Regions from separate parts of the Homo sapiens genome. Here regions 1 and 3 are each linked to region 2. The links come from fine-mapping of genetic effects on gene expression. A gene starts in region 2. Each other region holds a variant in brackets. All regions are shown on one strand. Distances are between the middles of the regions.

What was found.
Region 1: its variant is fine-mapped to the expression of TMEM236 in neutrophils (BLUEPRINT, PIP 0.95).
Region 3: its variant is fine-mapped to the expression of TMEM236 in whole blood (TOPMed, PIP above 0.99).

The regions. Positions count from the first base shown.
Region 1 is chr10:17,719,206-17,730,288 of GRCh38, reverse strand. No RefSeq gene overlaps it. Among named protein-coding and RNA genes, the nearest start is that of TMEM236, 27 kb to the left of the region's middle. The variant A/G (reference allele first, on the strand shown) is at 6,717.
Region 2 is chr10:17,746,050-17,757,132 of GRCh38, reverse strand. It overlaps TMEM236 (transmembrane protein 236), which reads right to left and starts at 4,932. Exons shown (of 4, transcript NM_001098844.3): 1 at 4,581-4,932. The coding sequence starts at 4,837.
Region 3 is chr10:17,660,967-17,672,049 of GRCh38, reverse strand. The region is part of intron 2 of STAM (signal transducing adaptor molecule); the gene reads right to left. Among named protein-coding and RNA genes, the nearest start is that of STAM, 22 kb to the right of the region's middle. RefSeq lists an enhancer at 207-961. The variant C/A (reference allele first, on the strand shown) is at 7,936.

The DNA.
Region 1 (11,083 bases), 27 kb after region 2:
TATGTGTTTTGTGTTTTCTTACCGGGTTTACAGGGCATTTAATTTCCCACAGATTTTAAGCATTTTAAGCAAAACACATAAAATAATTATTTGAATCTAAATGTGTTTACATGTTCAGTGGGGATCATTTCTGATCTGGTAAGGGGGAAGAAAGAGTTTTGTACCTTAGAGGTTGTCCACAATTCTTATTCATTTAGAAGTACAAAGAGTATTTTTCTGGGTAGAAATAAATGGTAAATAGCCACTCATTCTCCACCACAAAGTGTCTTTTAAAGTCAATATTGATATCACATTTGTTTGGAAAACACAAACTTGTTCCAGGAAATTAATAATGAATATGAGCAGAACTACAAGGAATATGAGCAGAACGCAAATTTCACAATTTGCTTACGCATGGTCTCATCCAGGAGCAACGCTAGGTGAAATGTGGAAAACCACACCCAGCATCGGAACACACAGAACACGAGTGAGCAGCCTCCGTTCACTGCAAGTACTGAGTCACACTTACCCAGTCCTGGGATTAGAACTCACCCTCTGATTCCAGCTGACTCTCCTTCCACAGCTTCACCTTAATTCATGAGCTGCAACCCTTCCTATGCCCACTTCTACAGGCACACTTCAGGTCTTTTCCAAGGTAAAGTGCCATATTTATTAACCATTTAACATGTGTCAAACTGTGCTGCTCTTATTAGATTCTTATCTTTATTCTTGGGTATGTCACTGTTGAAGTTTTGGGTTGCTGAGCCTCTAACCCAGTTTTCCCCATATATCCTAAGGCCTCTTTATTGTACAATTTTGCCGAGCATTCTGGTTTTTAGAAGGCAACTGTGCATTAACAGCAGGATTCACTGCATTCTATTGTGAGCATCATTTCATCAAAATTATAGCAATTCAAGTCCAACATCCAAGAGGTATCTGCTGGAAACCACCCCTAATGTTCAGAATTCTCTTATTTTAAGCATTCTGTATAGCATTTTACATTTCTCAAATGACAGCTCTTGGAATAAACATCGAGAAACAAATGAATTATAAACAGCATTTGATTAATAAGCCATGAATATTTAGAAATGTCATTTTCAAAAGACATTAAACAGTAATTCAGATCATGCTACTCAGTTTTAATTTAGTGATGTTTACCACTTGGTCAAAAACAAGCACTAGCACTTCAAAGTTTTAATCTCAAAATATTTCCTTGCGACAAAACTACTAAGACATATTACCTAAACACCGCTCCTTTAGCTTTTAATACCACTATCTTCGTTTAAACTTTGAAGAAAATCCCGAGACCATTTTAAATTACTACGTACATAAAACAAACATTTAGCATAAACCAGGCACTTATTCAATGTTAAATTTTCCCCACTGCAAGCATAAACAAAATCATGTTTCAACAAATATGCTCTGACAAATAAAAATCTGAAGGCTTTTTCTTGCCTTTAAAATATACAACTCAGCACAGTTAAATATCTACAAATGTTGGTGAAAAGTTAAAATAAAAATGTAATTTGCTTCCATCATGCTAAAAACCTTAAGAAAATTATTCTTTTTCAAATACAAGAGAGGCATGAAGAAAAGTAGAAATACTCTACTACTTATCTTAATGAAGGAAGCAAAAGCACGGTAATTTAACTCGTAGCCTAATGTAATTCTATTCTAGCCACTAGGTCTTTCCACATCGAATGCTTATTTAACTTAACCTGAAGAGAATCCACTTGACTGTCTGCCCCTACACCCCATGTAAATTAACATTCAGCAACCAGCTGAATGAAATGAGACTGTTCTGATGTTTTGATATTAAAATACTTCACTAAAATCTATTAGAATCTAAGTGGCTGTTTTTAAAATAAAGAAAAAGGCATTAATTGTATAATCACAGAATTGGTATTTACTATAAGAATTCTTTTTTTCTTGTTTTTTGGTAGAGCCCGACCAATATTCCTTTCTGTGACCATTCTTACAAAACATTAGCAAAAAATAGCAAAAAAGATTTTAAAAGGTACCTGTTTACAAAGGGAGACAACACACAAATCTGATAAACAACCGGAAAAGTTTGTCTTTCCCCCTCAACAAGTATAAAAGCCTTATCCAGTTTACTTAGTACTTGAAGTAAGCCCCAACTTCTTCATCAGATTCCATTAAATAATATAAACTTTAAGGAAAGCTTTTTAGATGCCAGCATGGTATCTAATCTTCTAAAGTGCAAATAGGAAAACTAAAAACAAGTATTCTTTATTTGTGGAATTGTTTTATAAAACTATATAAAATAATAGATAAATTTAACTGACAACACAAGAAAAAAGCCGATTTTAAAAAAAAAAACAACCTTCCTTGAATTTAATGTCTACTTTAATACTTATTTATATTAATAACTTGTAACTAAGCAGTATATAATGGCATTTTTCTAGGCCAAATATTTGTGATGCAAAAAAAAAAAAAATCACTGCTGGTTTTGCACCTTACTTGGTAGACAATTTTAGCCAGCACAAAAGATGGAAACTACTAGTTTCCATAGTACTCTAGCATCTCAGCAATACAACAGCTAAAGAACGGCAAGTGTAGTATACTGGTGACATTAACATTTTCAGTTCACCAAGACCAAGATGCCACTTTGCATACAAGAACATCAAGAATAAAATTTCATGTAGTCTGATGCTACTTACCTCCTTTAGTTTGAAGCAGTATACAAATACAGTATCTGTCCCAGAGTTACAACTATTTATTTTTCTGTTTTCAAATCAACACCAATGAAAGTTAAAGTACTATGGCTGAAGCGCTTCTACTTGGAATGCAGATGTTCCTGATAAAATCACTCAGAACAAAAGGCTCACCAGATACGAATGGAGATAAAGTACCCCCAGGTTACGTTCAGAAAGTACACTGCTATAACTACATGCTAGAAATCATGCACCCAAGTTTCAGTACCATGGTACCCAGGTCCATTCAGTGACATAGGTGAACTATTCAGGCTGAATGGCAGGGATAGTTAAGGTAGGCAGAGGTAGATGATATGAAACAGAAAATTTATACAAGCTACAAAAGATCATGTTACATTAGCCTTACAATGCATAAATAAGTAGACGACCCAGAAAGATACATGGAGCTGCCCCAAATCACATATCTACCAAGATATTCTTTTGACAAAAGATATACCTGGATTAAAGTCTAGTTCTCTGAATTCCTACAGCCATGAGCTGAAATTTCCACTTAATAGCAGAATGGACAAGTAAATTCCTACAACTTAATTTAGTTCTTATTCTTATCTTCAACCCCAAATACCATCACCACTATCCACCCCTTTCTTTAAAAGAAATCCACGTACTCACAAAAGTATGATACATTTACAATACAAATTAATGAAACCATTTTTTCATGAGCCATCCACCTTTTATAGAAATGAACTTGTTATAATGGTTCCTCTAAGTGAATTTACCTGTATTCCTGATTACAACTTCTTCAGTCATTTTCAGCCACTCCTTTACAGGGTATTATGTTTTTAAATTACAGAATATCAAAGATACTTATATCAAACCCTTCTTTTCTCTGGAGAAATAGAAACAAATTCTGAAACAGTAAACAGATTTTTTTTCCATTTTTGGTTCAGAGAAAAATAACCATACATGGATGTCTCACGTAAATTTTCCTATTTTGCATCTTACCTGGCTAACAGACAATATCACCTATAATTAACCGAAAACATTCTTAACTGTTTATACAGCATATCTTTTTCTAAAGTAACAAGATAATGTGATCACCCTGCAGTTAAGAAACTTGATGTATCCTGCCATAGAAACAACTGATTACAAACATTTATTCTACTTTTTAAATGCCATTAACCAACTGAAACAAGTCCCAAACTAGTTCTTTAATAAGCTGACGGCATATGTTACTGTAATGTGCATGTGTTTCAAAATTGACTGTGTTTATATATTTTATTCAGTCTGCTTCCAATTTAGTTACCAACTTGAGGAAAATAAGTAACAATGATAACTTTTAAAAAGAAAGGGCTTTCCCTCCCCTTCAGTGATTTCCCTATTTTAACAGAAGGTTATGACTAGGGTCATGAGAAGTCTTTCAAAACAAACGTGCCAAAATGTTTGCATCTAAAAACATAGAACTCTATTTGCTGGTTACATTTCTAGAGTTACCTAAAAGCCATCCAGAGTGAATAAGGTGGGTATTGAACAAATGGAGAAAAGCTGAGTAGGGTTTGAATGGGGAAAGGGCACAAATTTTCTGCAGCTTCTCTGAATGCAATTCAAGATGAAGAACATAAAAGTGTACTGAGCTACGGCAGCATCAATGGCTTGAGGATACAGGCTATCACAGAGCAGCTACATGTTAGGGTTAACAACGTTCCTTTATGTGTGCAGCTTCCGATGCAAGCCTGAAAAATCTAATCTGATTACCTCTAACCAGAACTCATCTGGTTCTGACGTAATTCTTTTAGGAATAAGTACTACAGTAGAGGCAAAGAGAATAGAGCATCAAGTCAGAAATCCAGAACGTAAGAAATTCTACGATACAACTGGCAGGGGTGTTTAAAAAGTCAATGTCGTGGAGCATCAGGGGGAGATGACAAGATTAACCCAGATTAGTAGAGAATCAAAGGACATTAGAAGTGTGGGTATATATTCCTGGAATGGATCCTGGATTTAAAATATATACATATCTATAAAAGACAGTTTGAGGGACATTCAATAACAATATATTACAGAATTACTGTTAATTTTCTTAGATGTGAAAATGGTTTAGGTTATGTGGGAAACTGTCCAAATCCTTACAAGACGTAAGATGAAGAACTTAGAAATATGGTTTACAATGTTTATAATGTGTCAGTTCACACAATAAAGTATGTGTGTATATACATAAGAACACTCCTATATATATATATGTATACACACACACACGTGCATATATAAACATACACGAGATAAAACAAACGTGGCAAATTTTTAATGATTAGCAAATCTAGATGAATAGTAATTAGATGTTCAGTGTTATCACTCTTCCAATCTTTCTGTAAGTATGAAAATTTCCCAACAATTTTTTGAGAAAGTACCACTTAAAGTAACAGATACTTACTTCAAGGGACCAACTTAGTAACATTCTACATCCCCTGCCTGTTTAATCTTAGCCTCTCAACAAAGTGGTCTCCAAATCAGGTTCATACATCCTAGGGCACAGAGAAAACAAACCACTAAGATATAGAAAGAAAATACTTAAATTTCTATTAATAACTTTTTATCTCACCCTTTTAAGATTTCTATTTTTTGGTGTGTTTCATAATGTACAATATGCTTTTATATAGTAGAACTTGTAAAATTTGTGAATAAATATATATACATATTTTTAAGGCTACACACTCAAAAAATTTGTTACTCATCAGGGTATCTAATCAAAAAATTTGGATACTACTCTTCTATAAAACAGACATGACTTTTGCTAAGTCTCTGACCACCAAAAGACCATTAAAATCAGTCCCTTTTGCTTTTATCCAGGGGTTTACTGACTCTTAATAATTTATTATCAGAAATTCTAGGTGTAACAGCAGCAGCAAAAAGACAGTAATGACAGTGGTAAGTGTTAGCAGATGCCAGGGAATCAGAGAACTGGCAAAGTGTAGTTTGGCCACAAGTTAGCACCAATAAAATGTTCAATTTTGTTCATCAAGGAAATCTAGAGTTTTAAATACTGAAATACTGAGATTTAAAGTGTTCTAGAACATCATAGGGAAGAGCATTTTTGAAGCCTGGAAATTTTCAGAAAAAGATACTATCAAGTACTAAGTAATTTCGAAAGAAGACCATTCTAAGGAAGAATACAGATAATACAATGAAGGCAGCTTTGCTTAAAAACGTGGGCGTGTGGTGGGCATGTCAATATAAAGAATACAGAAAACAACCTAGGTAATTGATAAGAACACTTAATGGAATCATGATGCTAAAATAAAAGATAATTGAACATAAGGCCTTTGAGAAATATTTAGGTAAGTTTCTTCTATATATTTTATTCTAAGGCGTACAAGTAGTTAATCCAAAAAAAGAAATAAAAAGGAAAACGATACAAGTGAAAACTTTATAAACCATAGCTTTGTTATTAAATATTTTTAAAATGATGTAACAGAAGGCAAGCTATAATTATTAGAACTGGAAAGTAAACCAAGAAAATAGATGAGAAAAGAAAATGATGACTTCACTGTATATTAAACAGATGAAAATTTGAGCAATTATACCAATAAATTTCATTTTGGAAAATAATTTCCATAATTTTTTTATACTTTAAGTTTTAGGGTACTTCTGCACAATGTGCAGGTTAGTTACATATGTATACATGTGCCATGCTGGTGTGCTGCACCCATTAACTCGTCATTTAGCATTAGGTATATCTCCTAATGCTATCCCTCCCCCCTCTCCCCACCCCACAACAGTCCCCAGAGTGTGATGTTCCCCTTCCTGTGTCCATGTGTTCTCATTGTTCAATTCCCACCTATGAGTGAGAATATGCAGTGTTTGGTTTTTTGTTCTTGCGATAGTTTACTGAGAATGATGATTTCCAATTTCATCCATGTCCCTACAAAGGACATGAACTCATCATTTTTTATGGCTGCATAGTATTCCATGGTGGATATGTGCCACATTTTCTTAATCCAGTCTATCATTGTTGGACATTTGGGTTGGTTCCAAGTCTTTGCTATTGTGAATAGTGCCGCAATAAAC[A/G]TACGTGTGCATGTGTCTTTATAGCAGCATGATTTATAGTCCTTTGGGTATATACCCAGTAATGGGATGGCTGGATCAAATGGTATTTCTAGTTCTACATCCCTGAGGACTCGCCACACTGACTTCCACAATGGTTGAACTAGTTTACAGTCCCACCAACGGTGTAAAAGTGTTCCTATTTCTCCACATCCTCTCCAGCAGCTGTTGTTTCCTGACTTTTTAATGATTGCCATTCTAACTGGTGTGAGATGGTATCTCATTGTGGTTTTGATTTGCATTTCTCTGATGGCCACTGACGGTGAGCATTTTTTCATGTGTTTTTTGGCTGCATAAATGTCTTCTTTTGAGAAGTGTCTGTTCAAGTCCTTTGCCCACTTTTTGATGGGGTTCTTTGTTTTTTTCTCATAAATTTGTTTGAGTTCATTGTAGATTCTGGATATTTGCCCTTTGTCAGATGTGTAGGTTGTGAAAATTTTCTCCCATTTTGTAGGTTGCCTGGTCACTCTGATGGTAGTTTCTTTTGCTGTGCAGAAGCTCTTTAGTTGAATTAGATCCCATTTGTCAATTTTGGCTTTTGTTGCCATTGCTTTTGGCTGGAGAGGCAGCCAAGATGGCCAAATACGAACAGCTCTGGTCTACAGCTCCCAGCGTGAGCGACGCAGAAGATGGGTGATTTCTGCATTTCCATCTGAGGTACTGGGTTCATCTCACTAGGGAGTGCCAGACAGTGGGCGCAGGACAGTGGGTGCAGCGCACCGAGCGCGAGCTGAAGCAGGGCGAGGCATTGCCTCACTCAGGAAGTGCAAGGGGTCAGGGAGTTCCCTTTCCTAGTCAAAGAAAGGGGTGACAGACGGCACCTGGAAAATCGGGTCACTCCCACCCTAATACTGCGCTTTCCTGACGGGCTTAAAAAACGGCACACCAGGAGATTATATCCCGCACGTGGCTCAGAGGGTCCAACACCCACAGAGTCTCGTTGACTGCTAGCACAGCAGTCTGAGATCAAACTGCAAGGCAGCAGCAAGGCTGGGGGAGGGGCGCCTGCCATTGCCCGGGCTTGCTTAGGTAAACAAAGCAGGCGGGAAACTCGAACCGGGTGGAGACCACCACAGCTCAAAGAGGCCTGCCTGCCTCCGTAGGCTCCACCTCTGGGGGCAGGGCACAGACAAACAAAAAGACAGCAGTAACCTCTGCAGACTTAAATGTCCCTGTCTGACAGCTTTGAAGAGAGCAGTGGTTCTCCCAGCACGCAGCTGGAGATCTGAGAACAGGCAGACTGCCTCCTCAAGTGGGTCCCTGACCCCTGACCCCTGACCCCCGAGCAGCCTAACTGGGAGGCACCCCCCCAGTAGGGGCAGACTGACAACTCACACGGCCGGGTACTCCTCTGAGACAAAACTTCCAGAGGAACGATCAGACAGCAGCATTCGCGGTTCATGAAAATCTGCTCTTCTGCAGCCACCGCTGCTGATACACAGGGAAACAGGGTCTGGAGTGGACCTCTAGCAAACTCCAACAGACCTGCGCTGAGGGTCCTCTCTGTTAGAAGGAAAACTAACAAACAGAAAGGACATCCACACCAAAAACCCATCTGTACATCACCATCATCAAAGACCAAAAGTAGATAAAACCACAAAGATGGCGAAAAAACAGAGCAGAAAAACTGGAAACTCTAAAAAGCAGAGCACCTCTCCTCCTCCAAAGGAACGCAGTTCCTCACCAGCAACGGAACAAAGCTGGATAGAGAATGACTTTGACGAGGTGAGAGAAGAAGGCTTCAGACGATCAAACTACTCCGAGCTACAGGAGGAAATTCAAACCAAAGGCAAAGAAGTTAAAAACTATGAAAAAAATTCAGATGAATGTATAACTAGAATAACCAATACAGAGGAGTGCTTAAAGGAGCTGATGGAGCTGAAAGCCAAGGCTCGAGAACTACGTGAAGAATGCAGAAGCCTCAGGAGCCGATGCGATCAACTGGAAGAAAGGGTATCAGTGATGGAAGATGAAATGAATGAAATGAAGCGAGAAGGGAAGTTTAGAGAAAAAAGAATAAAAAGAAATGAACAAAGCCTCCAAGAAATATGGGACTATGTGAAAAGACCAAATCTACGTCTGATTGGTGTACCTGAAAGTGACGGGGAGAATGGAACCAAGTTGGAAAACACTCTGCAGGATATTATCCAGGAGAACTTCCCCAATCTAGCAAGGCAGGCCAACATTCAGATTCAGGAAATACAGAGAATGCCACAAAGATACTCCTCGAGAAGAGCAACTCCAAGACACATAATTGTCAGATTCACCAGAGTTGAAATGAAGGAAAAAACGTTAAGGGCAGCCAGAGACAAAGGTCGGGTTACCCACAAAGGGGAAGCCCATCAGACTAACAGCAGCTCTCTCAGCAGAAACTCTACAAGCCAGAAGAGAGTGGGGGCCAATATTCAACATTCTTAAAGAAAAGAATTTTCAACCCAGAATTTCATATCCAGCCAAACTAAGCTTCATAAGTGAAGGAGAAATAAAATACTGTACAGACAAGCAAATGCTGGGAGATTTTGTCACCACCAGGCCTGCCCTAAAAGAGCTCCTGAAGGAAGCGCTAAACATGGAAAGGAAAAACCGGTACCAGCCGCTGCAAAATCATGCCAAAATGTAAAGACCATCGAGGCTAGGAAGAAACTGCATCAACTAACGAGCAAAATAACCAGCTAACATCATAATGACATGATCAAATTCACACATAACAATATTAACTTTAAATGTACATGGACTAAATGCTCCAATTAAAAGACACAGACTGGCAAATTGGATAAAGAGTCAAGACCCATCAGTGTGCTGTATTCAGGAAACCCATCTCACGTGCAGAGACACACATAGGCTCAAAATAAAAGGATGGAGGAAGATCTACCAAGCAAATGGAAAACAAAAAAAGGCAGGGGTTGCAATCCTAGTCTCTGATAAAACAGACTTTCAACCAACAAAGATCAAAAGAGACAAAGAAGGCCATTACATAATGGTAAAGGGATCAATTCAACAAGAAGAGCTAACTATCCTAAATATATATGCACCCAATACAGGAGCACCCAGATTCATAAAGCAAGTCCTGAGTGACCTACAAAGAGACTTAGACTCCCACACATTAATAATGGGAGACTTTAACACCCCACTGTCAACATTAGACAGATCAACGAGACAGAAAGTTAACAAGGATAACCAGGAATTGAACTCAGCTCTGCACCAAGCGGACCTAATAGACATCTACAGAACCCTCCACCCCAAATCAACAGAATATACATTTTTTTCAGCACCACACCAAACCTATTCCAAAATTGACCACATACTTGGAAGTAAAGCTCTCCTCGCCAAATGTAAAAGAACAGAAATTATAACAAACTGTCTCTCAGACCACGGTGCAATCAAACTAGAACTCAGGATTAAGAAACTCACTCAAAACCGCTCAACTACATAGAAACTGAACAACCTGCTCCTGAATGACTACTGGGTACATAACGAAATGAAGGCAGAAATAAAGATGTTCTTTGGAACCAACGAGAACAAAGACACAACGTACCAGAATCTCTGGGACACATTCAAACCAGTGTGTAGAGGGAAATTGATAGCACTAAAAGCCCACAAGAGAAAGCAGGAAAGATCCAAAATTGACACCCTAACATCACAATTAAAAGAACTAGAAAAGCAAGAGCAAACACATTCAAAAGCTAGCAGAAGGCAAGAAATAACTAAAATCAGAGGAGAACTCAAGGAAATAGAGACACAAAAAACCCTTCAAAAAATTAATGAATCTAGGAGCTGGTTTTTTGAATGGATCAACCAAATTGATAGACCACTAGCAAGACTAATAAAGAAGGAAAGAGAGAAGAATCAAATAGATGCAATAAAAAATGATAAAGGGGATATCACCACCAATCCCACAGAAATACAAACTACCATCAGAGAATACTACAAACACCTCTACGCAAATAAACTAGAAAATCTAGAAGAAATGGATAAATTCCTCAACACATACACCCTCCCAAGACTAAACCAGGAAGAAGTTGAATCTCTGAATAAACCAGTAACAGGCTCTGAAATTCTGGCAATAATCAATAGCTTACCAACCAAAAAGAGTCCAGGACCAGATGGATTCACAGCCGAATTCTACCCGAGGTACAAGGAGAAACTGGTACCATTCCTTCTGAAACTACTCCAATCAATAGAAAAAGAGGAAATCCTCCCTAACTCATTTTATGAGGCCAGCATCATCCTGATACCAAAGACTGGCAGAGACACAACCAAAAAAAGAGAATTTTAGACCAATATCCTTGATGAACATTAATGCAAAAATCCTCAATAAAATACTGGCAAAC
Region 2 (11,083 bases):
AGATAACTATATGATAATGCTCACGAATGTGGCCAGAAGGAAACAGTTTCAGTTTCACTGAAATTACAGATAACCTGTCCACTGTCTAAACACTATTTAAAACACGTGTGGCCAGCAACACCGGCAAAACAGAAACTAAAGACTGGAAGTGTATTTCCCAAAAGAAATCACTGAGAGATGTAGTCATGACAACCCGAAACACTTTAGCACAGGGGAGGTACCTGAGCCAGATGCACAACATGAAATCTGAACAGACACCAGAGATGACTGGTATACCACATGCACTAAGGGGCAGAAACAAAAGCCTACTCTGTTCCTTAACTCTCAATTGCCCCAGGAGAATGGGACCTTGTCCTTCAAAGAGGCAGTTTGGGACAGTGGCTAGAAGTACCCATTATGGAGTCAGGTAGACCTAGGTCCAAAGTCTGCCTCTTCCACTCTGTCTAGTTCACTGACTTTGGGAGAGCTGCTGAAACTCTCTAATCGGCAATTTTCTCTAGGCAATAATAACGATAAACTCATAAAAATTCTACTTTAGGCTGGGCACAGTGGTTCATGCCCGTAATCCCAGCACTTTGGGAGGCTGAGGCGGGCAGATCACTTGAGGTCAGGAGTTCGAGACCAGCCTGGCCAACATGGGGAAAATCCATCTCTACTAAAAATACAAAAATTAGTCGGGTGTGGTCGTGCACAACTGTAATCCCCACTACTCAGGAGGCTGAGGCAAGAGAATCGTGTGAACCTGGGAGGCAGAGGTACAGGGAGCCTAGATCGCTCCTCTGCACTCCAGCCTGGGCAACAGAGCTAGACTCCATCTCAAAAAGAAAAAAAATACTTTATGAGGTGAAGTAGATATTTCTCTGTCTTTTTGTTTTTCAGAGTTGGGGGTCTCCATCTGTCACCCAGGCTAGAGTGCAGTGGCACAATCATAGATCACTGCAGGCTCAAACTCCTGGGCTCAAGCCAACCTCTTGAATAGCTGGGACTACAGGCGTGCACCACCACATCCTGCTGATTTTGTAATGTTTTGTAGAGACGAGGTCTCACTATGTTGCCCAGGCTGATCTCTAACTCTGGGCTTCAATCAATCCTCCCACCTTGGCCTCCCAAAGTGTTGGGATTAAAGGTGTAAGCCACTGTGCCTGGCCTATGAAGTACGTGTTTCTGTACCACCTCATATCAGTACTTACATGGCACATAATCAGTGATCTATAAAGAATCAATTATAGCCTAATAATAATAACAGTAAGTTATATGGGAAGGTTTGCTGCCTAAATGACATTCAGAATCTAGAGTCTTAGGGATTTGAGTCAATGTGAAAACAAAAAACCAAAATACAAAAAAACCCAAGAGCTTCTTCCTGGGCTGTGGTGGGCCAGTTTCCCATTGGTTTATTCCTGTTGTCATTTGAACCTTCCACCATTCCCTCAAAATTCCAACCCAGCCAGGAATCTTGGACAGTCAAAGCCACCCCTACAGGGTGTGAGAGGTGGAGGGTCAAGCCCAGCTCCAAGCTACCCCTTAGGTGACCCTGGGGCTCTGGTCAAGGTTTGGAAAGCCCCTAAACCCTACTGATAAAAGCAGTGCCAACAACATAATGCTTTATTTCCAGAAACCCCTTAAGACCCCTGCTTTCGGGAAAATGAAAGTCTCCTGGCAAGGTTCGCAGAAGTAGCCACATCTGGGATCGGTACCTAAAGACAGCACCATGAACTTCACATGTCAGCTCTCCATCAGCATCCTCCCAACCTCAGCAATGGTATTTCTAGCTCTATTGCAGAGTCTATTATTTTTACATTTCTGCCCTTGCGTGGATGTGCAAATTCCCAGTGCCTCACTTTTCACATGTGTTCTATGTCATTCGCTTTCAAAATAAAACATCGGCCGGGAGCAGTGGCTTATGCCTATAATCCCAGCACTTTGGGAGGCCGAGGCAGGCAGATCACCTGAGGTCAGGAATTCAAGACCAGCATGGCCAACATGAAGAAACCCTGTCTCTATTAAAAATACAAAAAAAAAAAAAAACATTAGCCGGGAGTGGTGGCAGGACCCTGTAATCCCAGCAACTCAGGAGGCTGAGGCAGGATAATTGCTTGAACCCAGGAGGCGGAAGTTGCAGTGAGCTGAGATCGTGCCACTGCACTCCAGCCTGGACAATAAGAGTGAAACTCTGTCTCAAATAAATAAATAAATAAATAAATAAATAAAACATCAGTATGAAAGAAAAATTAGCTTATATTAACTTATTAAAGAAAAGAGAGAAGTCCAAGATGAGTAAGAATCAGATCTGAAGATCTAAAAGGAAAAATACATTAATATCAGAGACTATTTGTTCTCAATACCCTTATGTGGATCAGTATACCCATTAGCTAAACTGCTAGTTAAATTAACATTAAATCCTGATTTATTTAAAATATCTCTGTATTGTTATTGAAGTACTTTCCTCCCCTACAAGGGTAACAGAATTTACCAACACAGTAAATTATTTATTTTTAAAGTCTAAGTAGGCCAGCTTTGGCAGCTCACGCCTGTAATCTCAGCACTTTGGGAGGCCAAGACGGGTGGATTGTTTGAGCCCAGGAGTTTGGAACCAGCCTGAGCAATGTGGCAAAACCTCATCTTTATAAAAAACACAAAAAAAGTAGCCGGGTGTGGTGGTGTGCACCTGTAGTCCCAGCTACTCAGGAGGTCGAGGTAGGAGGATCACCTGAGCCCCCTGGGGAGGTTGAGGCTGCTGTGAGCAATGATCACGCCACTGCACTCCAACCTGGGCAACAGAGCCACACCCAGTCTCAAAATAAAAAATAAGTAAATAAAAAGTCTAAAGGAACCAGTTGTTTTAAAAGTCGTAGTTAATGGTCAAAGTATGACGTAAGCCTGCAAAATGCAATGTAAATAATTAAAAATAGACATTACTTTCAGTTTTACGCAAAATTAAAATTCTACATTACCATCTTCTGATTATGAGTTGTGTAAGCTCACTCCGATAAGTTTATGTAATTTAGTGTCCAGGAGAATTAAGTCCAACATTTACTACTTAGAATAGCATGAACTGGCACAAACTCCAGTCTTACTAACCCATCTCATGTGTTATTATCACTCAGTATAAATGACTGTAGAAAAATTAAGGAAGATACCATAATATCCATACATTCACAGAAGCAGTAATTGTAGCCTCCCATTAATGTCACATTCTATCCTTACGCTCTGCTCACATCCTTACCCACAGTATGTTAGAACATATCTTTCAGGAATACTTATACACTGTTAGTGGGAGTCTAAATTAGTTTAACCATTGTGGAAGACAGTGTGGTGATTCCTCAAAGACCTAAAGACAGAAATACCATTCGACTCAGCAATTTCAATACTGGGTATATACCCAAAGGAATATAAATCATTCTATTATACAGACACATGCACCCGTATGTTCGTTGCAGTACTATTCACAATGGCAAAGACAGGAAACCAACCTAAATGCCCATCAGTGATAGAATGGATAAAGAAAATGTGGCATATATACTTTATCGAATGCTATGCAATCATGAAAAAGAACAAGATCATGTCCTTTGCAGGGACATGGATGGAGCTGGAGGCCATTACTTTTAGCAAACTAACGCAGGAACAGAAAACCAAATCCCACATGTTCTCATTTATAAGTGGGAGCTAAATGATGAGAACACATGCACACACAGAGGGGAACAACACACACCGGGGCCTTCCAGAGGGTGAACGGTGGGAGGGAGAGGATCAGGAAAAACAACTAATAGGTACTAGGCTTAATACCTGGGTGATGAAATAATCTGTACGACAAATCCCCATGACACAAGTTAACCTATGTAACAAACCTGCACTTAAAAGTTAAAAGTCAAACAACAGACAAACAAACAAATATATCTTTGAAAGCATCACGGGGATTCCCTGCTAAGGAATTCTTTTACAGGCTGGGCGTGTTGGCTCACTCCTGTAATCCTAGCACTTTGGGAGGCCAAGATGGGTGGATCATTTGAGGTCAGGAGCTCGGGACCAGCCTGGCTAACATGAAAACCCCGTCTCTACTAAAAGTACAAAACTTAGCTGGGCATGGTGGTGCATGCCGGTGAAATAATCTGTACAACAAACCCCTAATGACACAAGTTAACTTATGTAACAAACCTGCGCTTTTACCCCTGAACTTTAAAGTTAAAACAAACAACAAACAAAAAAACAAACAAACAAACGTATCTTTGACAGCATCATGGGGATTCCCTACTAAAGAATTCTTCTACAGGCCGGGCATTGTGGCTTCTGCCTGTAATCCTAGTACTTTGGGAGGCTGAGGCAGGCAGATCACTTGAGGTCAGGAGTTCAAGACTAGCCTGGCCAACATGGCAAAAACCCGTCTCTACTAAAAATGCAAAAATAAGCCAGGTGTGGTGGTGTGCGACTGTAATCCCAGCTACTCAGGAGGCTGAGGCAGGAGAATCACTTGAACCCAGGAGGCGGACGTTGCAGTGAGCCAAGACTGCCCTACTGCACTCCAGCCTGGGTGACAGAGCGAGACTCCAAATCAAAAAGAAAAAAAAGAAAATTCTTTTACTTACCATCCTTTAATTTTTCTGTAAATATAACGTTTCTTGTGCAGGATAACTTTTACAGGAACCCAGATCAGTAGAGTCACTAACGCAACATAGGCAATAGAACAGGAGATGATCAGCCAGTAGTGTGTGTTGTCAGATCTAGCCCTTGTTCCTTGGTAGGCGGTGGCAAACTGTTCTGTGATCACGAGTGTGGGGATGGAGAAAGCGGCAAACTCTAGGAGCTCAAAAACCACGAACTTAATGAGCCTTCCAGAAGCCATCCTGAGGAAAAGCAAGCTGCCAAGAACCTGGGACTCCCTCTTTGACTGTGGGCAGCATATGGACCCACAGACACTGAACTGGGATCAAGTTCCTTGTCCTCGAATCGCTAACCAGTGACTTTTTATTCTTTTATTGACCCTCATATGGTTCAATGATCTCCTAACTTAACAACCGTGGTCTCTTAAAGGAACAGGACCATTGTGGAAGTGATCACTCAACATATTTGCACATCCATTATTAGAAGTCAAATGAACTTTAGAGCATGCCCGGGAGCATGGGTAAAAGCAGGGTTTTAAAAAGGTGTTTATTGCTAACGTTAGCACAAAACCATTTGTGTGATAGTCAATTCTTGTTAAGTAAAACTGCTGGAATAATATAATTTTAGAGTTAAAGGGGAATAGATAGAATCCAACCCTCTATTTTTACATAAAAGCAAATTCAGGCAAAGGGAGATACTCAAACCTAAGTCTTCATCTTGGAAAACCATCCCTCCCTTTCAAGTGCTTGAAAAGGGAGTTTGTATTCACTTTATCAACTCTCTAACCAGGATTCTCCCTAATACTTAAGATATTTATTCATTATTGTGCATTAGTTGCCATATAACACAAATTAATGTTATTTTTGTTTTGCTGCACAGGAAACTGAAATGGTGACATTAGAAGCCTGTTATCAAGATTTACACATTAACAGCTATCTGTGACTAGCTCAAATGCATATCAAATGTTTAAAGAATGACAATTGTCTCCATGAATATCCTTCCTTTGAAAAACATACTTGAGACCGGGCATGGTGGCTCACACCTGTAATCCCAGCACTTTGGGAGGCTGAAGCGGGCAGATCACCTGAGGTCAGGAGTTCGAGACCAGCCTGGCCAACATGGTGAAACCTCGTCTCTACTAAAAAATACAAAAATTAAGGCCAGGCACGGTGGCCCACACCCGTAATCCCAGCACTTTGGGAGGCTGAAGCAGGCAGATCACCTGAGGTCAGGAGTTCAAGATCAGCCTGACCAACATGGTGAAACCCCATCTGCACAAAAAACGAAAAAAATACAAAATTAGACGGGTGTGGTGGTGCATGCCTGTAATCCCAGCTACTTGGGAGGCTGAGGCACGAGAATCGCTTGAATCTGGGAGGTGCGGAGGTTGCAGTGAACCGAGATTGCACCATTACAATCTAGCCTGGGCAACAAGAGCGAAACTCCGTCTCAAAAAAAAAAAAAAAAAGCAAAAATTAGAGGGGCGTGGTGGCACATGCCTGTAATCCAGCTACTTGGGAGGCTAAGGCAGAAGAATCACTTCAACCAAGGAGGCTGAGGTTGCAGTGAGCTGAGATCATGCCACTGCACTCCAGCCTAGGCAACAGAGCAAGACACCTTCTCAAAAAAAAAAAAAAAAAAAAGAAAAGAAAAACATACTAGAGCACTTACAATGAGCATTTTAGTATGTGTTAGGGTGTGAAGATGAATGAATGACAGCAGTTCCTGTTCTGAAAGTGCTTGAGGTCCAATGGAGGAGATAAAATGAGGAACCACAACAAAAAACCAAGGCCAGAAGAGTGTAAATGAAGTGCTACAGGGACACAGGTGAACTTCACCTTGCTTCACCTTGGGGTTGTGGGAAGAGGATGGGCACATAAGCACGGTCAGGATGGACGGGGGCACTGTGGTGTCGGTGACATTTCAGACACAGCCAAGGAGGCTGCAGGGGTTAGTGAAAATCTGGTGTGGCACAGCAGGAAACAGGAGGAGGCAATGTTAGAAAAATAGTTTGGGGGCCAGGTGGGGTGGCTCATACCTGTAACCCCAGCACTTTAGGAGGTCAAGGTGGGTTGATAGCTTGAGGAGGCCAGGAGTTTGAGACCAGCCTGGGCAACATGGTGAAACCTCTTCTTTACAAAAAATACAAAAATTAGCCAGGCACGGTGTCGCTTGCCTGTGGTCTCAGTTACTCCAGAGGCTGAGGTGGGAGGATTGCTTGAGCCTGGGAGGTTGAGGCTGCAGTGATCTGTGATCGTGCCACAGCACTCCAGCCTGAGCAACAGAGCGAGACCCTATCTCAAAACAACAACAACAAAATAGGTTGAGGTAAGAATGGCGTGTCCCATTAAGGATTTGGTGGGGGTGTGTAGCCGGCAGTGAAAAAGCAAGGTTTTCTGAACACAGCAGTCCTTTGGTCATCTGGAAAGGAGGTTCAATGCTGATGTGGAGGAAGGACAGAGCAGTGTTACCCTGGAGGCAGGAGTACAGCTGGGAACCAGAGAGGAGCCTGGGCTAGAGGTAAGAGCCCCCTGGCCAACACAAATGGAGCGGGAGTGATGAGGGAGGCGACGCAGCAGCAGACATTGAGCCCCGTCCCTTCTGTGGCTTTCCCTGTACCTGCTGTCACACTGATGCAGACCTGTATTTCTCTAGGCTTCTCTCTCTCAAGGCCCCCGGCAGAAGGGGCCCTGCGCTGCTGGACTTCCAGGGTGCATCGGAGGCTCCTGGTGTGGCCCTGAGGATTGATGCCTTCTGCCCTCCCACTGCCAGACAATTAGTCAGCAGGTTCTTCAAGCCATCTAGTTATGTTATTTGAACTTGGATTTTGAATCCATTGAAGTTTAGCAGAAGTTCTTTCAAGCCAAAGAAGAGACTGAGAGGAACAATGATAAAATATGAAAGGATGGGGTGGAGGCCCATCTGAGCAGCGGTTCTGTCGTCGACTACTTTTTTTTTTTTTTTTTTGAAGCGGAGTCTCACTCTGTCACCCAGGCTGGAGTGCAATGGCACAATCTCAGCTCACTGCAACCTCCACCTCCCGGGTTCAAGCGATTCTTCTGACTCAACCTCCCGAGTACCTGGGACTACAGACATGCGCCAGCATGCCCGGCTAATTTTTGTATTTTTAGTAGAGACAGGGTTTTGCTATGTTGCCCAGGCTGGTCTCGAACTCCTGACCTCAGGTGATCCACCCACCTCGGCCTCCAAAGTGCTGGGATTACAGGTGTGAGCCACTGCACCCAGTTGTCAACTACTTCTAATAACTTATCACTGACATCAATTGTCAGTATCATCCCTGATGAAAATGCCTATTTAAATGATACTGGATATGAATTATATTTTAACCTCCTAACAGTCCATCTTGAGTCACTAGCACTCTGTTGAATCATAATTTCTGCTACAAATTTTGTGTATGAATAAGAATTATTGAGCATTTGAAGAGAGTTATTGAATAGCTTGACTCTGGAGAAAGAAGTCTCTTACCCAGGCCTAAAATTCCATTTTGAATGCTCAATTTTTATTTCCATTTATGAGAATTTAAAACTGGCACTAGCTTTCTATTTCCCGCCTGTAACATTCCTCTGATTCATAATCTTCCTCCACCTTTATTTTTTTAATTTTTTGAGACAGAGTCTCGCTCTGTCTCCCAGGTTGGAGTGCAGTGGTGCAATCTCAGCTCACTGCAACCTCTGTCTCCTGGGTTCAAACGATTCTCCTGCCTCAGCCTCCCTAATAGCTGGGATTACAAGCACCCATCACCACACCTGGCTAATTTTTGTATTTTTAGTAGAGACGAGGTTTCATCCTATTGGCCAGGGTGGTCTCGAACTCCTGGCCTCAAGTGATCCACCCACCTCGGCCTCCCAAAGTGCTGGGATTACAGGTGTGAGCCACTGCTTCCGGTCACCTTTACAAGATTACCCCATGAGTGTTAGCACTCATGTGACGTGACCTGTGACCAGTGTTTTCTACCTCCTGGAATGCCCTGGTCACTGGCTGTGGTTTCTTTAGGAGGAAGGCTGTGATTCTCACTTTCTGCCTGCCACAAGTCCAACTCCATGTAAAGAAACAGTTGCATGTGTTCGCATTGTCCTTTGAACACTTCCTGCGTGCAGATCACGGCAGTCCCTGTTAACTCACGTTCTGCTTAGGGAGATAACACAAGTGCCCCGCAAAGACCCGAGGACACTGGTGGAGTAAGTACTCTGGGCGAGTTAGGACTGGGAAGGGTGACCTGCCCACAGTCCATCTCCCTTCTTCAGCCACATCTTCTTGAATGAATGGGTCCTGGGCCATAGAGTGTCCAGCCATCTATGTGTAGCCTGGCACAAACCAGGTCAATCGGATTCTCACCCTTAGGAATTTGAACTCAGAAACATGGGGAGAATTTGGTAAGTGGAGCTAAAGAAGGTCATGAGTTTGAGTCAGAATTAGAGCAAGCCAAACTCTACGGGCTGGAACCTCCACTCCTGGCATGTTGTCAATTCTATCTGATGAATGAACAAATAGAAGCCAGGCGGGGAGGGAATAGAAGAGTGAGTTGAGCAAGGAACCTGGGAGTGAGAAGGCTAGGACAGATCAACAGGGAGAAGCAAGCATGCCAAGAAAGACCAGTCTTTACAGGTGTCTGAGTTGTTGAACTTTCCAGCTCACATGTGCCCTTACAAAAGGTGGTCTTTCTTCTTTGCTAGAGAAAGGGCTTGAGAATAAGACAAAGGAGTGTGTTTATGAGCAGAGGCCAAATACCATTCAGAAACCCCATGGAAAATTACCAGAAAATACAGGGGAAAGGATGGAAAAAACTCACAGTTTATCAGAGAAGCCTTCTCAGAGGAGGTAAGCTTTGTATCAGTCTTTCTGTTGACTCAAAGCGGTAGCTGTATATTGCTACAGCAATTTTCTCTGTATAGTGTAATAATATTTCCTTTGAAAAATTGTTCTGGCTGGGTGCAGTGAAATACTGCAATCCCAGTATTTTGGGAGGCCAAGGTGAGAGGATTGCTTGAGGCCAAGAGTCTCAGACAAGCCTGGGCAACATGGCAAGACCCTGTCTTTACCAAAAAAAAAAAAAAAAAAATTAAAAATTTAGCCAGGCATTGTGGCATGCACCTATAGTCCCAGCTATTAGGGAGGCTGAGGTGGGAGGATTGCTTGAGCCCAGGGGTTCGAGGCTGCAGTGCACTTTGATTGCACCTGTGAACAGCAAATACATTCTAGCCTGTGGTAACAGAGGGAAACCCTGCCTCTAAAAATAATAATGATTTTTTTCAAGGAAAAATAGTTCTAAGAATGTTCATGATGTAGTAAGATAGGGAAGAGGGTGGGACAGAGAAGCAAGATACAGATACTATGTCTAACAACATCAGTGGTACAATCTTTTTGATTTCAAATATTGTAGTTGTAGGTTTCTACGTAAATTTTAAAATCCAGGAAGATACTTGTCAAACTGTTCACAGGGCTGTCCCTAGAGCATGGGTGAAGTGGGGTGGAGGGAGTTCAATAACAATTTTGTGCTTTTTTTTAAAATCTATCCTCCACCAATTTGATTTCCCTTACTTTATAGAAGCCAAATAATCAAACTGCACTTCAATTATCCTTTTAACGGTAGTACCTAAGAGCAGCGAAATAGTCAAGAGGCAAGCAGAAGACAGGAGACAGGTTTGAACCACTGTTTTCTGGCTGGGCCTTTGGGTGGAATTGGATCATCCTCTCCTGCTTTCATAGGAAAAGGCTGAAAAGGGAAGCTTCATCCTTCTACAGACCCTTGTTTTCTCTCCTGCTCCTCTGTGCAACCTTTTCTTACTCTGCTTTTCCAAGCGGAATTAAGTCATCCCTCCTTTCTCAAAACACCTTTTTTTTTTTTTTTTGAGACAGAGTCTTGCTCCGTCACCTGGGCTGAAGTGTAGTGGCGCAATCTCGGCTCACTGCAACCTCCGCCTCCCAGGCTCAAGCGATTCTCCTGCCTCAGCCTCCAGAGTAGCTGAGATTATAGGCATCAGTCACTATGCCCAGCTAATTTTTGTATTTTAGTAGAGATGGGGTTTCGCCATGTTGGCTAGGCTGGTCTCGAGCTCCTGACCTCAAGTGATCCACCCGCCTCAGCCTCCCAAAGTGCTGGGATTACAGGCGTGAGTCACTGTGCCCAGGCTCAAAACATCTTTTGGATACTTGTAGGGTAGCACAAATGATAAAATGTTCTTATACCATTCATTTACACACTGGGTCCCTCACAAAACCGTGAGCTCCTGGAAGGCAGAGAGCATCTGCTTTTCATCTGTGCATCCTCATTTCTCAGCACAGTGCCAAGCACACAACGGTCCCTTAATATGTATTCCTGGAAAAAAGGAATGCACAAGAGAAGTATAAGAGAAGTGGAGACGGCCAGGCATAGTGGCTCATGCCTGTAATCCCAGCACTTTGGGAGGCTGAGGTGGGCAGATTGCTTGAGCCCAGGAGTTCAAGACCAACCTGGACAACATGGCAA
Region 3 (11,083 bases), 85 kb after region 2:
CTATTTCAAATAGCTCTATATCTCAGTTGAAAAGTACTTTTTAGTATCATAAAAACCATATGCCGAGCAGTGACAGGAAGATTGTATACTCTAAAGGAAATTATTGTCATTGAAAAGACAGTAAATTTAAATTCTAATTCCTGTATATATTACTAAATTAATAAATGATTTTTAGACCAATCAACTTTTCAAAATGAGGATATCACCTCTTCATTATCCCTCTCTCAGGACATAACAAAATAACAGGGTATTTGCCTAAAAGTATTGCAAATATAAAAGAAAAATGATCAAAACAAAAATTATCAATAGCAATAATAAAAAACATGGTTAACAAATATGTTTGCATGGTTAACCTCTAATAACCTATGTCAGACTAAAAACGTACAAGGACACTAGTGAAAGACTATCTGGCATGTTGCATCCCTGATCCCTGCTAGTTACTACATCAGTAACATCAGTAGTAACCCGCCTGTCATGGGACACCTGAAACCATCCCTAATGGAGCAATACCACCCAGGCTGAAAACCATTACTAAACAAAAGAAGCATTGTGATACAGTAGAAAAACGATTTGAAGCTTTGACAGACCTCATCTGTAAAAGAGGAGATGTCTAATACCTCCTTATCAGAATGTTAATACAAAACTCCTAGACTCATGCCAGGGATTTAGAGACTCTCAACAATGTTAGTTCTTGAAAGCACAAAAATGTTTCATTTTTTATCTTTGCTTTTACAACTGTAGCTTTCAAAGTTATTTTAGAGTGATTTAAACATTACATCTTCATCTAAAATGCTACAAAAAAAGCTTTACTGTGGTTTACCATTCAAGGACATATGTACGTCTATATTGGAGGAAGGAGGAGTATGTGCATGCATAGCTTTTATAGGTCTTAGTATACCAGGACCTAGCAGACACACAGCAGCTAAAAGACATGGGAACTCAAATCTTTGCTGAATGAACTAAATATTTTTAGAAATTAAGAGATAATATGAATGCTCCTTGAATACTGAGTAGAGCCTTATTTAGATGCCTTTCATAAGCATGAAGGCATGTCACAGACTGTAAGAGAATTCTAATATAAAAGTACAAAAGAAATCACAACAGAAATAATGCAATCTTTATATACTGAACATATTCAAAATGCAAATTTGATTTGTAACATACATTACATAAAACATAATCCACACAACATATAAAAGGAGCAAAATATAGAGTACAAATATCAAATTATTCCCTTAATGTTAAGCTTATTAAGTAGGCATTTCTTATGAGATAATGGAACGTGAATATAAATATATACAGTGATGTTATTTGACTATTATTTAACAAACATGTTCATGTAAGTCCCAAAGGACTTCATTAGAAAAGCAGATAAACTAAACTTCTACATGCTGAACTAAAATATTGAGGATTAAATTCAGTACGATGATATTTTGAGTTTTCTAGACCATGTAACACTAAGGTATATTTCAGTCAAACAAAACACAATGTAACATAACGTATGGGGAGAGAGGAATCACCAAAAACTTTAATGTAAGATTGGTATGTCTTGATTCATAATTTTAACCTTCAAATATAACTGCTCATACAAGCACCTAAGCACACAGCACAGTGAAGGTAGAAAAAAACATAAAATGGGAAGTAAAGAAATCTGACTTCTAATTTTGCCTCTGCTCACTCGTTTTAGACAAGTCACATTAAAAATCTCAGGGCTTTAGTTTTCTCATCTGCAAAACAAGCACAACAGTCATCAGAATTCTATAAGTCTCATTCTATAAAATATACGATGTTTTTAAGACTTAGTAAAATAAAAAAGTAAAATCATTGTCTAGGCAAGTAAAGATAGAAAAATCAGCTCGCATCGGATCCCATTCCCTATTGCCTAGTCAACAACTTGACTTCTGTTGTTATCCCAATTCTCTCCTGAATCATCATCTCAATTTCCCCCTCAAAGTGCATCATTCTCTTCCAGATACACAGATGCTATAATCCCGTCTACCCTTTAAGAAGGGAAATTCCCAGCTGGGCGCAGTGGCTCACGCCTGTGATCCCAGCACTTTGGGAGGCCGAGATGGGCGGATCACGAAGTCAGGAGATCGAGACCATCCTGGCTAACATGGTGAAACCACGTGTCTACTAAAAATACAAAAAAAAAAAAAAAAAAAGAAAAGAAAAGAATTGGCCGGGCATAGGGCATAGGGGCGGGTGCCTGTAGTCCCAGCTACTGGGGAGGCTGAGGCAGGAGAACGGTGTGAACCTGGGAGGCGGCATTTGCGGTGAGCTGAGATTGCGCCACTGCACTACAGCCTGGGTGACAGAGCGAGACTCCATCTCAGAAAAAAAAAAAAAGAAAGAAAGAAAAAGAAGGGAAATTCCCAATCAGTGAAAGAAAAACCCCACTGAAACAGCAGCAAAAAGGACAAAATACCTCAGACGAAACATTACAAAAAATGTACAAGACTTTTAAGAGGAAAACTTAAAAACACTACTAAAGGTTATAAACAAAAAGAGATGCTATGTTCTCGGATAGGAAGATTTAATATCATAAAGACATAAATTTGTTAATTTAAAACTAGGCCAATTTAAACAGAAAGTTTTGTTTTTAACCCAGCCAACTCAATTTGAAAGTTTATTTAATGAGAGTAGGAAGGGGAAAGAATATCTAAAACAACATTTCCGGAAAAAAAAAAAAAAACCTCAAGACCATATCCTACCAAATGTCAAAACATATTAATAATTAAAACCATGTGGTAGCAGAATGTGTTTAGACACATACCAACGGGTCAAAAGAGAAAAACAGACTTAAATACATATGCAAATATAATATATAAAAGAAATATTTCAAATCAGAAGAAAAAAAGATGGACGATTCAGTAAATGGTGTTGGGATATTTGGTAGCCAAATAGAAAAGAATAAAGTTAGAACCATACTTCATACTGCCTAACAGGATAAATTCCAAATAGATCAAAGACTTGAATGTAAAAAACAAAACCATACTGAGACTGTGGGGACAGTCTGGTGGCTTCTAACAAAGATAAACAGTCTTACCATATGATCTAGCAATCATGTTCTCACATATTTACCCAACTGAACTTAAAACGATGTCAACACAAAAGGCTGCAAATTCATGTTTATAGCAGCTTTATTAAAAATCACCAAAACTGGGAGCCAACAAGATGTCCTTCAGTAGGTTAATAAACAAACTGTAGAACATCCATATAATGGAAGAGTATTCAGCAATAAGAAGAAATGAACTACTGAGCCACGAAAAGGCACGTAGGAACCTTAAATGCATACTGGTAAGTGAAAGATGCCAGTCTGAAAAGGCTATATAGTCTACGATCCCAATTACACAACATTTGGAAAAGATAAACTTGTAAACAGTAAAAAGATCAGTGGCTGTTTAAAGTGCAAAGAGAGGAAGGAAAGGAATGAACAGATGGAGCACAGGTCATTTTAAGGTGATAAAACTATTCAGCATGGTACTGTAATGACAGATACGTGGCATTACACAATGGTAGACACATGTCATTATATACACTGTCAAAACCCATTGACCTGTACAAAACAAAGTGTACCTTAATGCAAACTATGGACTTTAGTTAATAGTAATGTATCAATATTGGTTCATATCTTGTAACAAATATATACACTAATGAAATATGTGAATAATTGGGGAAATTGTGTCGGAGTTGACCTCTGTACTATCTGTTCAATATGCATTATGCTAAGCAATGTGCATTCATTTCCCTTGCCTCTTCCAAACCACTCTCCCTCTTTCCTAAAACTGCCCAGCTCCAATCACGTCAGTCCCCTCATGTTGCAGTTTATTTAAAAATCTCAAATGCCCCTTCACCTGTCAATTATTTTAGCTACTGGATCACTGCCTCTCTCTCCAACATCACTCCTGTCCTAATTCTTGGAGCTTTTAATAACAGTGTAAGTGATGCTTTCAACACTTTGGCTTTTCAACTTCTATCACATCTTATTAACTCCGATGGACCTTGGAGTCATCAGACCTTGTCATTACCAATAACTGAAAACCCTCTATAGTTTTAATTTAAAGGATCCTACCTTCCAACCATCATCTTCTATTTTTCTAACTCACTCTGAAACCCAGCTCTGCGCTCATTCAGGGCAACTGACTTCTGCTCCAGCTACTCTGTAACTTTCAAGTTCTTAGAAGGCATCAAGTTTTCTCTACCTTGTAGCATTCAGCATTCACCTACAGACTATTGCTTCTTTCTGGGATGCAGTGCTTTGAACTCTGTCTCTTTTCAACATTAAAATTATAGCATAAACGTAACCCCCTCATACCAGTCTACCTTTTTATTTTCCATTATAGCACTCTGGTTACTAGCTTCTTAGCTATTGACCATCATCTGTTAGTATCTGTTTATTTCACATCTTCCACCATTAGAATATTAGCACCATTGACGGCAAAGGCTATGCCTGCTTTATTCACCACTGTATAGCCAAAGCATGATATTTGGCATTCAGTATTTGACAAATAAAAGAAAAAATGACGAACGCAAAGAGAATGAAACGAATTAAAGAAATTCTGCCATGTTACGAAACTGAGTGAAACATGGAAATCAAGATCACGTTTTAAAAAAAAAATTCTATGGGCTGGATGCGGTGGCTCACGCCTGTAATACCAGCACTTTGGGAGGCTGAGGAGGGCAGATCACAAGGTGAGGGGTTCAAGGCCACCTGACCAATACGTTGAAACCCCATGTCTACTAAAAATACAAAATAGCCGGGCATGGTGGCGTTCACCTGTAATCCCAGCTACTTAGGAGACTGAGACAGGAGAATCGCTTGAACTTGGGAGGCAGAAGTTGCAGTGAGCTGAGATCGCACCATCGCACTCCAGCCTGGGCAACAAAAGTGAAACTCTGTCTCAAAAAAAAAAAAAAATTATTTAACTCTGCTGGAACACTTCCGCTATTTTAAGTTATATAAAAGAATCCTAAATATCAATTAGATTTCTCACTTGAAAGTTGAGAGAATCTACAGTACCTAGAACTGCTGTGATAATCAAACAAAATGTTCATAGGGCACTGTAACAGAGTCTAGCAAACAATAAGTAGTCAATAAGTGACGATTATTCTTAAAAGAGCATTTAAAAGACTTTGATGATAAAGTCCTGTAAAATGAGGATATGATTATAGGAAGAAAAAAAGACTTGAAAGAGGTCTGTTTCTCTACTGATGCTGTCCTTTCAACTCTAGAATATCCAGCTCAGAGATTATTTTTCCCTTACAAAAATCAGGAAATATTCTTTCAACTTCCTACTGAAGGCCGGAAATAGTCACAGTCCAGTCCAGGACAAAACAATACAAAGCCAAAGGCCAGGCAGGGTGGCTCATGCCTGTAATCCCAGCGCTTTGGGAGGCCAAGGCGGGCAGATCACAAGGTCAGGATATCGAGACCATCCTGGCTAACACGGTGAAACCCCGTCTCTACTAAAAATACAAAAAAAAATTAGCTGGGCATGGTGGCGGGTGCCTGTAGTCCCAGCTACTCAGGAGGCTGAGGCGGGAGAATGGGGTGAACCCGGCAGGCGGAGCTTGCAGTGAGCCAAGATCGTGCCACTGCACTCCAGCCTGAGCAACAAAGCAAGACTCTGTCTCAAAAAAAAAAAAAAAAAAAAAAAAATACAAAGCCAAGGAAAAACATTTTTAACAAACTCCTTCCCAAAGGCTTACATTTGTATTTTTCACAAAACACCAATAATGACTATCATATGATCTTTCTCATTCTGTTAGAATAAATTTAGTACCAAAACATATCCATTAGTCGGGTAAAGAAAAAGTTACATGATGTTTTCCACCTTTAGTCAACTATATCTTTGGCTAAAGCTAAGCAAAGACAGTTAACATATAAAATAACAGCAAAACTTAATCTAGAGGTCAATTACAGAACTTTAATTTTAACTTGTTATTGAAGATAATCAGTATTTATCCTCACGTCTATGTTTACATAAATATAAACAAATCAATCAACACTAACATAGAAAAATTATTTATGTGAAGACATGTTAAAGAAAACGGCTATTATCATTGTGAAAGTTCTCTTGATTTCTAAACAAATGAAGGCTGTTCAGCCCATCATATGACCTAATTGGCTGGGCATTCTTCACTAGTTACTCACACACTGGAAATTGCGCAGTAGAAATCATGTGAATATCTTGAGACGTTAGAAAAAAATTTCAGAATGTTTGTTAAAGTTTTAGGTTTGGTATAATCAAGTATTTCAAGATTTAAAAAGAAACTACAACTTAAATGAAGTAAACAGGGATTACATCTAGTAGGCTTTCTGAAATTGAGATAATTACTAAAAATTACTAATTTTCATTCAGTAATTATGTATATGTGTTAGATATTCTACATGCCACTAACCAAAATTAATGTTAAACTAGAAAATAATTTCCAAATTTGTCCAATACTAATAGACTTAAAAGAAATACATTTCTAAGACTGACAGGATACAATAAGTAGTCAATAAGTAACGATAAGTAATTAAGTAATAAATGCAGAAGAATATATACAACATTCTTATTACATGTAAATGGGGGGAAAATGTATTCACATTTGTGTAAAAGAATGGAAAGATACAAAATTTACGTAAGTGGTAACTTATAGAAGATGAGAGCAGCGAAACAGGGATAGGAATTAGACTTGTCAATGTCCATCTTTTTAAATTGTTTTAACATTTGAGCCATGTGAATACATACTTATTTTTAAAAGAAATAAATACTTTATATAATCAACAAACATAAATATATATGCATATGCATATGTATATGTGAGTTTAAAGAACAGAAAATGGGTTTGTCTGGTTTTTTCCTTTTTAAGAGAAGGAATTAAGAAAAATTTTTCACAACACCACTGAGAGCCATGTTTCCTGGTCACAGTTCTGACTAAATGAAACTTCACAATAATAGCTCTTTTCTCCCCCTTTAAAACCTAAGAATATTTTTCAAACTACCATAATTCTAAGACAGATGACTTTAAAAAAAGAAGCCAAAAGAGAAAAAAAGGTTAAAATAATATGAATTATTTCATTTTATTTATCCTCTAAATGATTCTACTATATATTACTAGTTACAAATCATTTTGATTTAAAAAATACAATATTACTGAAAGTGAAATGCTCCTCCTAAAGTCCTTCCACCATCTCTGAATCTGTCCTCTTAAAAAGATCGCCGCACTTTACAAAATTTCAGGCTAACACCAAATAGCAATAATAATTTTTTTTCTAAATCTAGATTGTTGCCTGAAACACAAATCACTTCTGAACTGCATTCCAATCTACAACATTCCTCTACTTCAAAAGACTCTACCTGAATTTGTCTTTGGAAAACTCATGTCCTCTTTTCCCTCTCAACCCACTTACATGTTATAGTCTTCTCTAAAGCACATCAGGTATTTAGAATACCTCAATGGCAGCCTACAATACTGTTCAACATTCTTATGCGACCATCAGCAACCCATATCCAATCACAGTTTCCTCCAAAACATAAACCAGATTTCTATAAGTTGTCCATATATACTAATTATAAAATAATTTAAAATATTAAAGGCAAACTACAAATGTTTAAGAGGAGCTGGAGGAAAGGGGGATGAGTTATTGTTTAATGGGCACAGGGTTTCAGTTTGGGATGATGGATAAGTTCTGGAGACAGACAGCGGGCATGTGAGTATACTTAATCCTACTAAAGTGAACACTTTAAAATAGTTAATTTTATTGTATATATAATTTACCACAAAAATAAAAACAAATAACATATTAGGAATGCCACCATAAGTATCCCACAGTTTAGTGCTCACCTGAAAGAAACCTAAAATTTTCTATTACTAAGTTGATCTGTGAATATGTAACCCAATTCTGTAAACGCTTATGCATGTAGGCACAGGGCCTAGGACTCA[C/A]AATAATTTTGGAAGTACACGTAAATGTTTTATTTCTTTTAAAACAAGAAGAAAAAAGTGAACTTTTGCTTCAAAGAAAATGTTTTAATATATAATACTAATATATTTTTCCTTAAAACAATGTAGTCATAAAATATTTTTAATTTTTTTAATAGAAAGAGGAGCCCAAGAAGACAAAAGTGCCTAGGGCCCAGGAATGTCCTAATATGACCCTTATGTTTACCATTTCCTAATATGAGATTATCAAGGGAGAACAAGAAAGAAAAAACACAACTGGAGATGTATGTTAAACAGTATTATTGAAAGAAAATACATACATGAGCAATTATTGAAGGCCTGACATTTTTTTAAAACCTCAATAATATTAGAATGGTATCTCAATTATTGTTTAATCCTTTTCAAACAACTCTTTATTAACAAGAGGTATAACAAGATATCCCATTTATGCACACAATAAATGCTTGAAGATTAACTTAATGGGGATTTAAAAGAACCAGAGAGCAATAACTATTAAAGGAGTCAAAACTAAGTGAGTAAGTGGGAAGAAAAAAGAAGAAAAAGGAGGGAAGGAAGAAGAAAAGGAAAAAACACTGACTAAAAGAACAAACAGATCCACCTTCATTATCGAATTCACTGAAGTTGAAAATATTTCCTAAGTAAACTCATAGACTTAGTATAATGTCAATTAAAATCCCCAACTGACAATTCAAATATTAAGGAATATACTGAGAGAAAGTATGTAGTTTAAAAATAAATATGAAAAACTAAAAAAAATGAGCATGTGTCTAAACCTATTGATACTGGATAAAAACAAAAAGACAAAAAATATTTTTAAAGCTATAAATTAGTAAATTTCAAATATGAAAGGAAATAAAATAGGGAAAATAATAATAAACATTTCTGGGAGAATAACGTTAACATTAAGAAAAACAAATTGATCTCTACAGCTTTGTGCTACAACATACAGAATTTCAGATGCATTACAAATTGATTTTTTAACTGGAAAAACATGGAATATTTATAGTTGTAAAAGGGGGTTTGCCTTTTGACAAACAACTTCAAGCAATTGACCCAATTATTACAGAAAGCGTCTACAAAATGAAAAACACCGAAGTAAAGATAAAAAGGAAACCAACAAAGTGAAGAGAGAGAGGAGGGGCTTTGCAGCTGCAATGCTAGATAAAACTTTTATCTCCAAAATGCACATGAAGTGGTCTAGCTTGGTGCCCAGTCTTCAACAGAAACTGTCACAAAATATGACTTCAATCAAAAGCAGGCAGAGTTGCACTCATTCAGCCATGTGCCAGGTACTGTTATAAACACTTGATAAAGCTAATCTCAAAGTCACAACAACTCCCCTATGAAGATGATACTATTATTATTCTTAGGTGGTAAACTGGAAAAGTAAGGCCCAGAAAGATAAGTTACTTACCCAGTATGACATAGCTAAATGGCTAGAGCCAAGATTTGAACCCAGGCATTCTCCCTCTAGAGTACATGATCTCCACCACTAAGCTATTTGCTTCTTTCCCATGTGCAACAGAAGTTCATGGACCATTCATTCTACAAATCTACTAGGTTTATATCTAAGAAACTTCAGTTCATTAGATATAAGTTACTAAAATGCAGGAAAAAACACAAATAAGAATAGTTTTGATAGAGTGCTTTGAGGATTCAGAGGATCATACCATTGTCAGTAAAGGGGATAAGGAAAGGCTTTGTGGAAGAAGTGGTATCTACATTGGGTCTGAAAGGATATGAGACACAGAGATGGGAAATTAAAGAGGAAAACATTCCATCCTCAAGAAACAAAAGGACCAAAAGCATCAAACTAAGGTAGAAAAAAAGCACTGGAACTCAGATAGTTGAGCTGAAATGAATGTTATACAGGAGGGAAAAAAATGAAAATGCATGATTCAGAAGACTAAGGAGCTTAAACTGAACTCAGTATGGAAGGTAGGGGAGTAACATGAACACAGCTGTTATACGGCAACTGGATATAAGAATTAGAAAAGAGATGGAAACAGAAAAAAAATGCCAGTGGGTTAATTCGCTAGCCTAGGCAAGGTAAGGAACGTCCAAAGTAAAGTAGGACAAATAAAAATGGAGAAAAGGGAACGCGATATGTAACACACAGTAGTTAAAAATTTTCAATTAAATTAATGAACCAGGTCAGAATATACTAAAATGTAAATACAACAAAGGGATGGATGGGACCACATTTGGGAGATTCTTTGGGAACGTCATAGTGGGAGGACATTATGGGCCAAAAAAAGCTAGAGTGGAGGGTATACAGCCCCTGAAGAAAACTGCCTCTGCACCATTTGGCTATGCTCAAAAACTTGATTAAGGAGACTTTAAAACGTCAACATTTTGAGAGATTATGAAGGCAGATGGACAGAATTGAGTAATAAATGTGAAGGTGACTCAAGTTTTAGTGCAATGAAAGAATCATCTTGTCATTAATAGAAATGGAAAAACTGAAAGAAAGTAGGTTTAAAACAAAAAGAGACAGGAGTTCTGGTTTCTAGATGGTGAGATGAAGGCTTATATAGAACGATATCCAGAAATAATGCAGTGTCCATAAGACTAGTGCTTGAGTAAGAAGAGCTGCAAATACAGATGCCATCTACATAAAGACAGCTGGAAGTTGTGAGACCAAAAGAAAAAATCTTAGAAATAAAAAATGAATCAGGGAAAGTTTCAGGAACATCTATATTTAGGGGTGAAGGAAGAAGAGGCAAAGAAGACACTGGCAAAGGCTTCATATTACCACTGCAAATATCAAGTGTAATGCAGCAGTGCTTCCTAATCTTTTTCACATGAAAGTGCACAAATAAGACAATACCATTTGTGTGGCATAAAGCAGTAAATGAAACTGCTAAAGGCTAATGCTGTTAGCCCAGGAGCTGAAGAAATCACCCATATCCACACCAATTAATCCAATTACTGTACTGTTTGGAAAGCTCTGTAATACATGCCAAAAAGTTTAAGATTCTATTCCCCTAATCTTTCAACAGAAAGAAAAAATTTCTTTTCAATTCCACCTAACTGATTCATTAGGTGGAATGTTGCAAATCTGACAAAGGAGAAAAGAACTCATAAATAACCATGAAACTTGGTAACTGAGAAATCACTAATAACTCTA